Regions from separate parts of the Homo sapiens genome. Here all the other regions are linked to region 2. Evidence: fine-mapped expression QTL. A gene starts in region 2. Each other region holds a variant in brackets. All regions are shown on one strand. Distances are between the middles of the regions.

Region 1 (2,733 bases), 49 kb before region 2:
CCTTTCCCTCTGCGAATCACACTGGGTGGGTCGCTGGGGGCCTCGGTAATTACGGATTATGGCACAGCCAAGAAAAATACAGGTTTTCTTAAGCCTGAAGCCACTGACTTGAGGGGGGAGAGTAGGAGTAATGCCAGCAGCAGTTTTGTATTTGGTTTTTGTTTTTATATTCTAGTCTCTAGGCCACAAGACAATGTTGCACCCAGTGCCAGTCGATCCGTCACGGCGCCGCAAACTTTCCCTGAACGGAGGGTTTGTGGCTGACATCTCTAGTTTCTCAGAGCCTGGGAGTGATCACTGGCTGCACCGCTGATGGCGCCCAAAAGAACGCGCATTTGTCTTTGGCAACAGCGCTGGGTTTCGCCTCGTGCCCGCGCCTGAAGGGTCCTAGCGCCGCCAGATTCTCACACTCGCGGGTCCAGCGCCCAGCGCTGCTCCTCCCACCAGTCATCGGTTTCTCACACGCACTTCATTGGCAGCACTGGCGAGTCAGTTTTCCGGTGGCGGCGGCGCTAGTTGGTCTGCACGAAACGTTTCCCTTCTCGCTCCGTGTGTCCCATTCTCCATCCCACGTCCTCCAGTGCCGGGGTCATGGTCGCAGCACCCGGCGTTCCCGTTGGCTCTTTTGCCGCTGCGCGGAGCCGGCGGTTTTTCTGTCACAGCACTTGTACGGAGTTTCTCGGCGGCCGAACGTCTCTTTTTTTCTCAGAGACGACGGTTTCTTGGTGACAGTACCGTTGGTTGCGCCGTAACGAATGTTCTCCTTGACAGCCCCACCAGCTGGCGTCACTCGCAGGCTCCAGACGCCGCCATTTCGCCAAGCCGAGGTCTCTTGGTTGCGGCACTGCTTCTGGCTCGGTGCCTGTATTTTCTCGGTGCCTACAGCGCCCAGGTCGCCGATCTGAGGGCTTCGGAGTACCGGCCGGGCGCGGTGGCTCACGCCTGTAATCCCAGCACTTTGGGAGGCCGAGGCGGGCGGATCAGGAGGTCAGGAGATCGAGACCATCCTGGCTAACACGGTGAAACCCCGTCTCTACTAAAAATACAAAAAAATTAGCCGGGCGTGGTGGCGGGTCCCTGTAGTCCCAGCTCCTCGGGAGGCTGAGGCAGGAGAATGGCGTGAATCCGGGAGGCGGAGCTTGCAGTGAGCCGAGATCGCGCCACTGCACTCCAGCTTGGGCGACAGAGCGAGACTCCAACT[CAAAAAA/C]AAAAAAAAAAAAAAAAAGAAAAGAAAAAGAAATCTGGGTACCCGCGAATGCGATTTTTTTTAGGTTTACCGATGATCAGTTTAGCAGTGCCTGGGAGCTCTTATACCAAGTTTGTTTTCGCAATATTGAGTCCCACCTTAGCTAAGCTTGTGTGTATTTTAAACTCCCATGGAAGTCAGGAAATGTCCGCAAACGCGATTTCTGGTTACCAAGCTCCGTTTGGCAATAGCAAGTCCTGCCGAACGCGACTTTTTCCTCTTGTGGACCAAGTCTGAATAGACCAGCTACTGCGATTTTTAAGTCGTAGTAAAAAAGGTTTAACCGTGACTGCTTTTTTTTGTTGGTGTTGTTTGTTTTTGTTTTTGTTTTCGTAGGAAATGTAGACTTAGGTGTAACATGTACCGGTTTAGATCTGACAGAGATATCACAATTGTAGGATTGCATCTTTTAGCAAGGTTTGTAATTTCTTCTTTCTAGGATTGGTTCTCTGTAATTTTTGCTTATTTTTAAATTCTCTCTTTGTCTTTTGCTCTGAGAACGATGTTACCGATGTGTTTGCTTTCCATGTTTACTTGCATTTTAGCCTTTATTTTTTTAATTTTGATTTTATTTAAATGTTATGTATTTTTTTTCTACTAATTTTGAGCGTCTCAGCTTCCTGCTTCTTTACTTACATTCTCTCAGGATCCGGGGAGCCGAGCTCGGTCTCAGTCTCCCTGCTGTCAGGTGCCAGGTTGTGTCTGGTGGCTCTCCTTCGTATGCGGAGCTGATGGTTTTGCATCAGCGCTTTTGCCAGTAGAGCCGACTAGCGTTTTCTCAGTTACGGCACCGTTCTTAGCGCCCAGTGTGACGTTTCCCATTCGCCAGGTCCTTATGTTCTCTGTGCTGTCACTTTCTTGGTTCTCGCACCGCTAGTATCTGCTAAAGAACTTCCTAAACCATGTTTTACTGTGCAGAACGGTGATTGCACGGAGCCGCTGTACGCACTAGTAATTTCATAGCACCGTTAGCTGGCGCTTTTTCTGTCACAACACATTAAAACGGGTTAAAATACTGCAAGCGGATTAAACACATTAAGAGGATTAAAACATTAAAATGTCTCAACACATTTTTCTGACACAACACATTTAAACGGAGTGGGTTCATTCCTCCGAAGAGGATGTTTAGGCGTGGAAGCACCGCTGTTTCCCAAGAGCACGGTTTCTCTCTGGCAGCACCACTTATGGCACCAAAACAGGTATTTTTTGGCAACACCAGCACTATTCGCTAGGTGCCGGCGCTTGCTGAGTCCCAGCGCCGCCAGTTTCTCTTTCGGTCGTTAAGTAGCTCAGAGCCCTAGCGGACAGTTTTCAGGTGGCAGTAATGCTCATTTCCTGGAACAGATGGTTCGTGGCCCTTGAAGCGCTGCGATCTGTAAAGCTAGTTCTCTGCAAGGTTTGCTTAGTGTCTGTTTTATTTCGGTTTCTTTTCTTGCTATGTTTATCTGTCGGAATTACAGTTTGTTTTGGTTCTATGTAATCTCTAA
Region 2 (2,760 bases):
CGGGACTTGCTTAGGCTGAGAAATCACATTTTGGCTAGTTATTTGGACAAGAGGTAGAAATAGCGGGCACCGCGAAATCGAAACTTGCTAGGACCAAGAAGCCAACGACGGGCGAAACCGCAGGGGCCTGCGATAGAGACGCCAGCGGCGCCGCCGGGGGACTGGGTTCAGGAGGCCGAGCAGGAACCCGTGCGTCGGCGCTCGCGGCGCTGTGAAGAGACGGCGTCCGCGCAGCTCCTCTGCCTCTGGCTCGGAGGAGCGGCGGGCTCCCCCGCCCAGCGCCGGCGTCGCCCGGGAACCCCAGACTCTGCGCAACTGGCTGCGATTCCAAATCCCTCAGATCGGCTACCAGAGCGCTGCCGCCACCGAGAAAATGGAGGCACCGAGGAACAAGATGTGCCGCGACCAAGAGAACTCGGCTTGGCGAAATGGCGGTGCTGGGACCCTAAGAGTGACGCCAGCCGGAGGAGTTCCCAAGGACAACATCCATTTTGGCGGAACCAACGGTGTTGTCACGCAGAAAATGTCGACCCTCGGAAAAGAGAGGTTCTGCGACCGAGAAATTCGGTGCAACAAGTGCTGTGACAGAAAACCCCCCGCTCGGCGCTGCTGGCGAAAGAGCCAACAAAACGCTGGGTGCTGCCACCGTGACACCGACTTTAGGACCCCGGCCTCGGATGGAGAAAGGAGGGTACGGAGCCACCACATAACTTCCTAATGTCTTCAAATAGCGAAAGTGCTAGCCGGAAACTGCCGGCTGGGTTTACCTATTGGTGCTCGTGTGGGACTAGCAGATTCGAGAAACCAGCGGGACTGGAACCTAGTACACTTCGGCAGTTGAGAAATGACTTACCAGGACAAATACTGCTTCTGGCTCGATGGTGCTGCCCATGAACATCCGCCGGCTCTGAGAAACGAGCTGCACTGTCAGTGAGAAACCGTGGGCACTGAGAAACGAGCGGACTGCAACTGATAACTGCCCACCCAGTGCCACTACGACAAAGTGCTGCTGGCACTACTCCCACCCTCCGTCCTCAAATCAGTCCCCTCCCGCCTAAGAAGACCTTTATTTTTCCTAGCGAAGTCATACTGAGGGCCCCATCAACCGATCCCTTGCGATGCGCATGGGAAAAGGAGGCAGTATAGGGACCGAGAATCGGGCGGATTGGGCTGGCCCTGGTAACAAAAGCCATCCGGGTCGCCAACCGTCTTCCACTGCAAGAAACAAACCTTCCAGTGGCTGGGCTCCGCCCTTCTCCTTGGTCAGAGCCCTCCAGGCTCCTAAGGGCGAAGCCGACACCTCATCCCTTTGGAACTTGAAGTTCTCAGTCCAAGACCTCCGTGGAGAGTGAAAGACTCAATGCCTCCTGACCGAGGCTTCAGGCCTGCCCCGGCAGCTAGGTACCTCTCCAGGGGATGGAACTCTGTGGGAACTGCTATTTAATTCTGATGGTTAACTCTGTCAGATGGCCTTGATATATGGGAATAATCGTTGCAGGAGGGTAGGGGAAATAAGAATCGCAAGACTCTAGCACAGGACGTGTGGATTGATGGTGAGGCCTTTGCTCCCTCTCCCCTTGAAATCCTCAAAGGGCAGTTCCCGATTTCTATCACCTTTGAAATTCATCCCTGATGTCTTCTCCATCTTTGGGAAGTGCAATGCAATTTCAAGCTCTTGAATCTTCCCTCTCCCACATTTGTCAAATATACTGACGCTACAAACTCCTTTCTTACAGGAAACCTGAAACTGCCATTGAGCAGAAGGAAAACATCCCTTTCCAGAACCTTTCTCGTTTTTCTAAAAATCTGCACTTTTGGAAGTGATCCCCCAAAGAGACCTCCAGACTCTACCATGAGTGTCTCCAGCTGAACTCATCGTGTCTAATCCTCACCCTAGCTTATCCTGTTCAAATCATTTCCATCTTTTTCTGGATGAACCTGGGCGGATGTCAGACCAGAGAAGAGCACAGAATGTACCAGAGAGGTAAGAAGACCCATTTTGGGCTCTCACTTCTCACCCACTCCCAAGATGGTCACCTCCAGTCTTCCCCCCTATACCTTACCCTTTCTTCAGCTAGCCAAAACCTGCCCTGGTACTTGAGGCTTCTTCAGTTGCCTTCTTTTGCAGGCAGTAGAATAAAGGAAAGAGGGCAGTGTCAATAGAAGAAAAGTTACAGCCACTTTATCTAATTGAAGATACTGTGCAGAGCCTTTGAAAAAACAAAATATCTCACCCACCATTCCTCTCTCCGTTTCCACCCTAGCTTCCTATTTTAGCAAAAATGGTGGGATCAGCACCTCTGGAGGGAAGGGGTCACTCTTCCAGGTTAGGAATGTGGACAGGAGTTATGGAGCTTACTTCCCTAAAGGAGGAGGCATTCTAGTTCCGGCATTCAGATTCTGTCTGATTCCAATATGGTGTTTGTGTGGGGTGGTCAGAGAAAGGGCAAGTCGGCAACTGTATATTCCTCAGCAAGAGACTATAAGACATTTGCATTTGGAAAATCAGGAGAGATGCTGATATGGTTTGGCTCCGTGTCCCCACCCAAATCTCACCTTGAATTGTAATAATCCCCATGTGTCAAGGGTGAGACCAGGTGGAGATAATTGAATCATGGGGTTGGTTTTCCCCATGCTGTTCTCGTGTTAGTGAGTGGGTCTCACGAGATCTGATAGTTTTATAATTGCCTGGCATTTTCCCCTGCTGGCACACATTCTCCTGCGGCCCTCTGAAGAGGTGCCTTCCATCACGATTGTAAG
Region 3 (2,760 bases), 41 kb before region 2:
GATTTCCTATGCCTGTCTTTACTTTAATCTCTTAATCTTGTCAGTTGAGGAGGATGTATATCATCTCAGGACCCTGTAATAATTGCGTTAAGTACACAAATTGTACAGCATGTGTGTTTGAGCAATATGAAATGTGGGCACCCTGAAAAAAGAACAGGGTAACAGCAATTGTTCAGGGAATAAGAGAGATAACCTTAAACTCTGACCGCCGGTGAGCCGGGCAGAACAGAGCCATATTTCTCTTCTTTCAAAAGCAAATGGGAGAAATATCGCTGAATTCCGTCCCTGAGAAAGAGAATGCGCACCTAGGGGTAGGTCTCTGAACTGGCCGCCCCGGGGCGTACCTGTCTCTTATGGTCGAGATTGCAGAGGTGAAATAAACTCCAGTTTCCCATAGCGCTCCCAGGCTTATTAGGAAGAGGAAATTCCCGCCTAATAAACTTTGGTCAGACCAGTTGATCTCAAAACCCTGTCTCCTGATAAGATAATATCAGTGACAATGGTGCCAAAACTTCATTAGCAATTTTAATTTCGTTTCGGTCCTGTGGTCCTGTGATCTCGCCCTGCCTCCACTTGCCTTGTGATATTCTATTACCCTGTTAAGTACTTGATGTCTGTCACCCACACCTATTCGCACACTCCCTCCCCTTTTGAAAATCCCTAAAAAAACCTGCTGGTTTCGGTGGCTTGTGGGGCATCACAGATCCTACCAATGTGTGATGTCTCCCCCGGACGCCCAGCTTTAAAATTTCTCTCTTTTGTACTCTGTTCTTTTATTTCTCAAGCCAGTCGACGCTTAGGAAAATAGAAAAGAACCTACGTGATTATCGGCGCAGGTCCCCCGATAACCTGTGATCCTGTTTTGTGATATCAAGTGTTTTAAGTCTTTGATGTTTGACAAACTTTCCAAAATCCAATTCTAAATTCAGTCATTTTCATCTCATTAGTTTTTTTGACATTGAGTCCCCTGAAATCCAAAGAGACATATTTGGCTTAGTTGGTATAATCACACAAGAAGTATTATCAAATATAAAATGATATGTAACCATCTTTGCATTGTATTTATGTAAATGTGTTATTAGTGTTTTAAAATTGTATGAGATTCTTCTGATTGTGATATGTCTTAGTATATGTTTTCAGAACTAATTATGATTATTATATTCAAATGTTATATATCATAGATATAACCACATTTCTTTGTCAGTTGTGTCTTAAACCATGGCTATTGTAAGACTTTTGTCATCTACAATTATTGTTTTACTTAGATCCTTTCGTAGAGTGGTTTATAATCAGTTATAGAGCTCTGAGACTACCCTT[TTTG/T]TTGTTGTTGTTGTTGATGTTTGCTTTTTGAGACAGGGTCTCAATCTGTCACCTATACTGCAGTGTGGTGGCATAATCACTGCTCACTTCAGCCTTAATCTCCTAGACTCAAGCAATCCTCCCACCTAAGCCTACCAAGTAGCTGAGGCTACAGGCACGCACCATACACTCAGAGAATTTTAAAAATTTTGTAGAGATAGAGTCTCCCTCTGCTGCCCAGGCTGATCTCAAACTCTTGGGCTCAAGCAATCCTCCCACCTCAGCCTCCCAAAGTGCTGGGATTACAGGCATAAGCCACCACACCCAAGATTTTAATACATTTATCATGTCTTCATTAACAAATACCAAGTGTCTATATTGTACTACATAGTGAACAAGGTCCCAGAGATAAGTAATCAACAAGCAGACATGGACTTGGCCATAAAGTGTTTGACACCTTCATGGATTGTAAAAAAAAAAAAAAAGCATGACAACAAATAAATAAATAAAACCGTGTTTATATGATAAATGTTATCAAGAAACTTAACGCAACTTAGTTGAAAAGGTAACTAGGAGGATATTATATTAGCTACTATAGTAAGGATAGAATTGTCACAGATACTTCCACTTCGATATGAGTAATGCAATGAACAACACCAAAAAACAAACAAACCAACCTAGGCTGGGTGCAGTGGCTCGCACTTGTACTCCTAGCACTTTGGGAGGCCAAGGCAGGCGGATCACTTGAGGCAAGGAGTTCAAGACCATCCTGGCGAACATGGTGAAATGCCATCTCTACTAAAAATATAAGAAAATTTGCTGGGCGTGGTGGCCCACACCTGTAATCTCAAGTTACTCAGTAGGCTGAGGCGAGAGAATCATTTGAACCCGGGAGGCAGAGCTTGCAGTGAGCTGAGAACACACCACTGTACTCCAGCCTGGGCAACAGAGCAAGACCCTGTCTCAAAAAAAAAAAAAAAAAGGTGGAGTTACCATCATGAGAGAATATAAAGTACAAAGATTCTAAGACTAGAAAACTTTATTATGGGCCGGGCATAGTGGCTCATGCCTGTAATCCCAGCACTATGGGAGGCTGAGGCAGGAGGATCACTTGAGGCCAAAAACTCAAAACTAGCCCAGGCAACATAGTAAAATACCATCTCTAGTAAAAAAAAAAAAAAAAAAAAAATTAGCTGGATGTGTTGGTGTCTGCTTGTAGTCCCAGCCACACAGGAGGCTGAGGCAACATAATTGTTTGAGCCCAGGAGTTCAAGGCTGAAGTGAGCTGTGATGATACCACTGCATTCTAGCCTGAGCTACAGAGTGAAACCTTGCCTCCAAAATAAAAATAAACGTTTGTTACAGCCATGGACAAAGAGAAAGCAATTAATGGCTTTCAGTGAACTAAATGGGAGGTATCTAGACTAAAAAAATCTTGTAGTCTTCTGCCCAAGATGGCCT

Which allele goes with the higher level. Positions count from the first base shown, and alleles are read on the strand shown. Sizes are in standard deviations (SD) of each study's normalised expression. Not every link is listed here.
With allele TTTG in place of T in region 3, the expression in thyroid of the gene that starts at base 1,206 in region 2 is higher (small effect, 0.27 SD a copy in GTEx).

Evidence for each region.
Region 1: its variant is fine-mapped to the expression of ANXA2R-OT1 in whole blood (INTERVAL, PIP above 0.99).
Region 3: its variant is fine-mapped to the expression of ANXA2R-OT1 in thyroid (GTEx, PIP 0.92).

What each region holds. Positions count from the first base shown.
Region 1 is chr5:43,017,654-43,020,386 of GRCh38, forward strand. The region is part of intron 2 of ANXA2R-OT1 (ANXA2R overlapping transcript 1); the gene reads right to left. It overlaps LOC105374748 (a long non-coding RNA gene), which reads left to right and starts at 492. Exons shown (of 3, transcript NR_188279.1): 1 at 492-1,019; 2 at 1,583-1,663. RefSeq lists enhancers at 1-60, 459-981, 521-660, 2,728-2,733. The variant CAAAAAA/C (reference allele first, on the strand shown) is at 1,202.
Region 2 is chr5:43,066,234-43,068,993 of GRCh38, forward strand. It overlaps ANXA2R-OT1 (ANXA2R overlapping transcript 1), which reads right to left and starts at 1,206. Exons shown (of 3, transcript NR_104651.1): 1 at 1,065-1,206; 2 at 854-924. LOC100132356 (a long non-coding RNA gene) reads right to left here and starts at 738. Exons shown (of 1, transcript NR_034127.1): 1 at 1-738. It overlaps LOC100506639 (a long non-coding RNA gene), which reads left to right and starts at 790. Exons shown (of 3, transcript NR_102752.1): 1 at 790-1,553; 2 at 1,737-1,984. RefSeq lists an enhancer at 418-817.
Region 3 is chr5:43,025,026-43,027,785 of GRCh38, forward strand. The region is part of intron 2 of ANXA2R-OT1 (ANXA2R overlapping transcript 1); the gene reads right to left. LOC105374748 (a long non-coding RNA gene) reads left to right here. Exons shown (of 3, transcript NR_188279.1): 3 at 1-2,671. Among named protein-coding and RNA genes, the nearest start is that of ANXA2R, 14 kb to the right of the region's middle. The variant TTTG/T (reference allele first, on the strand shown) is at 1,318.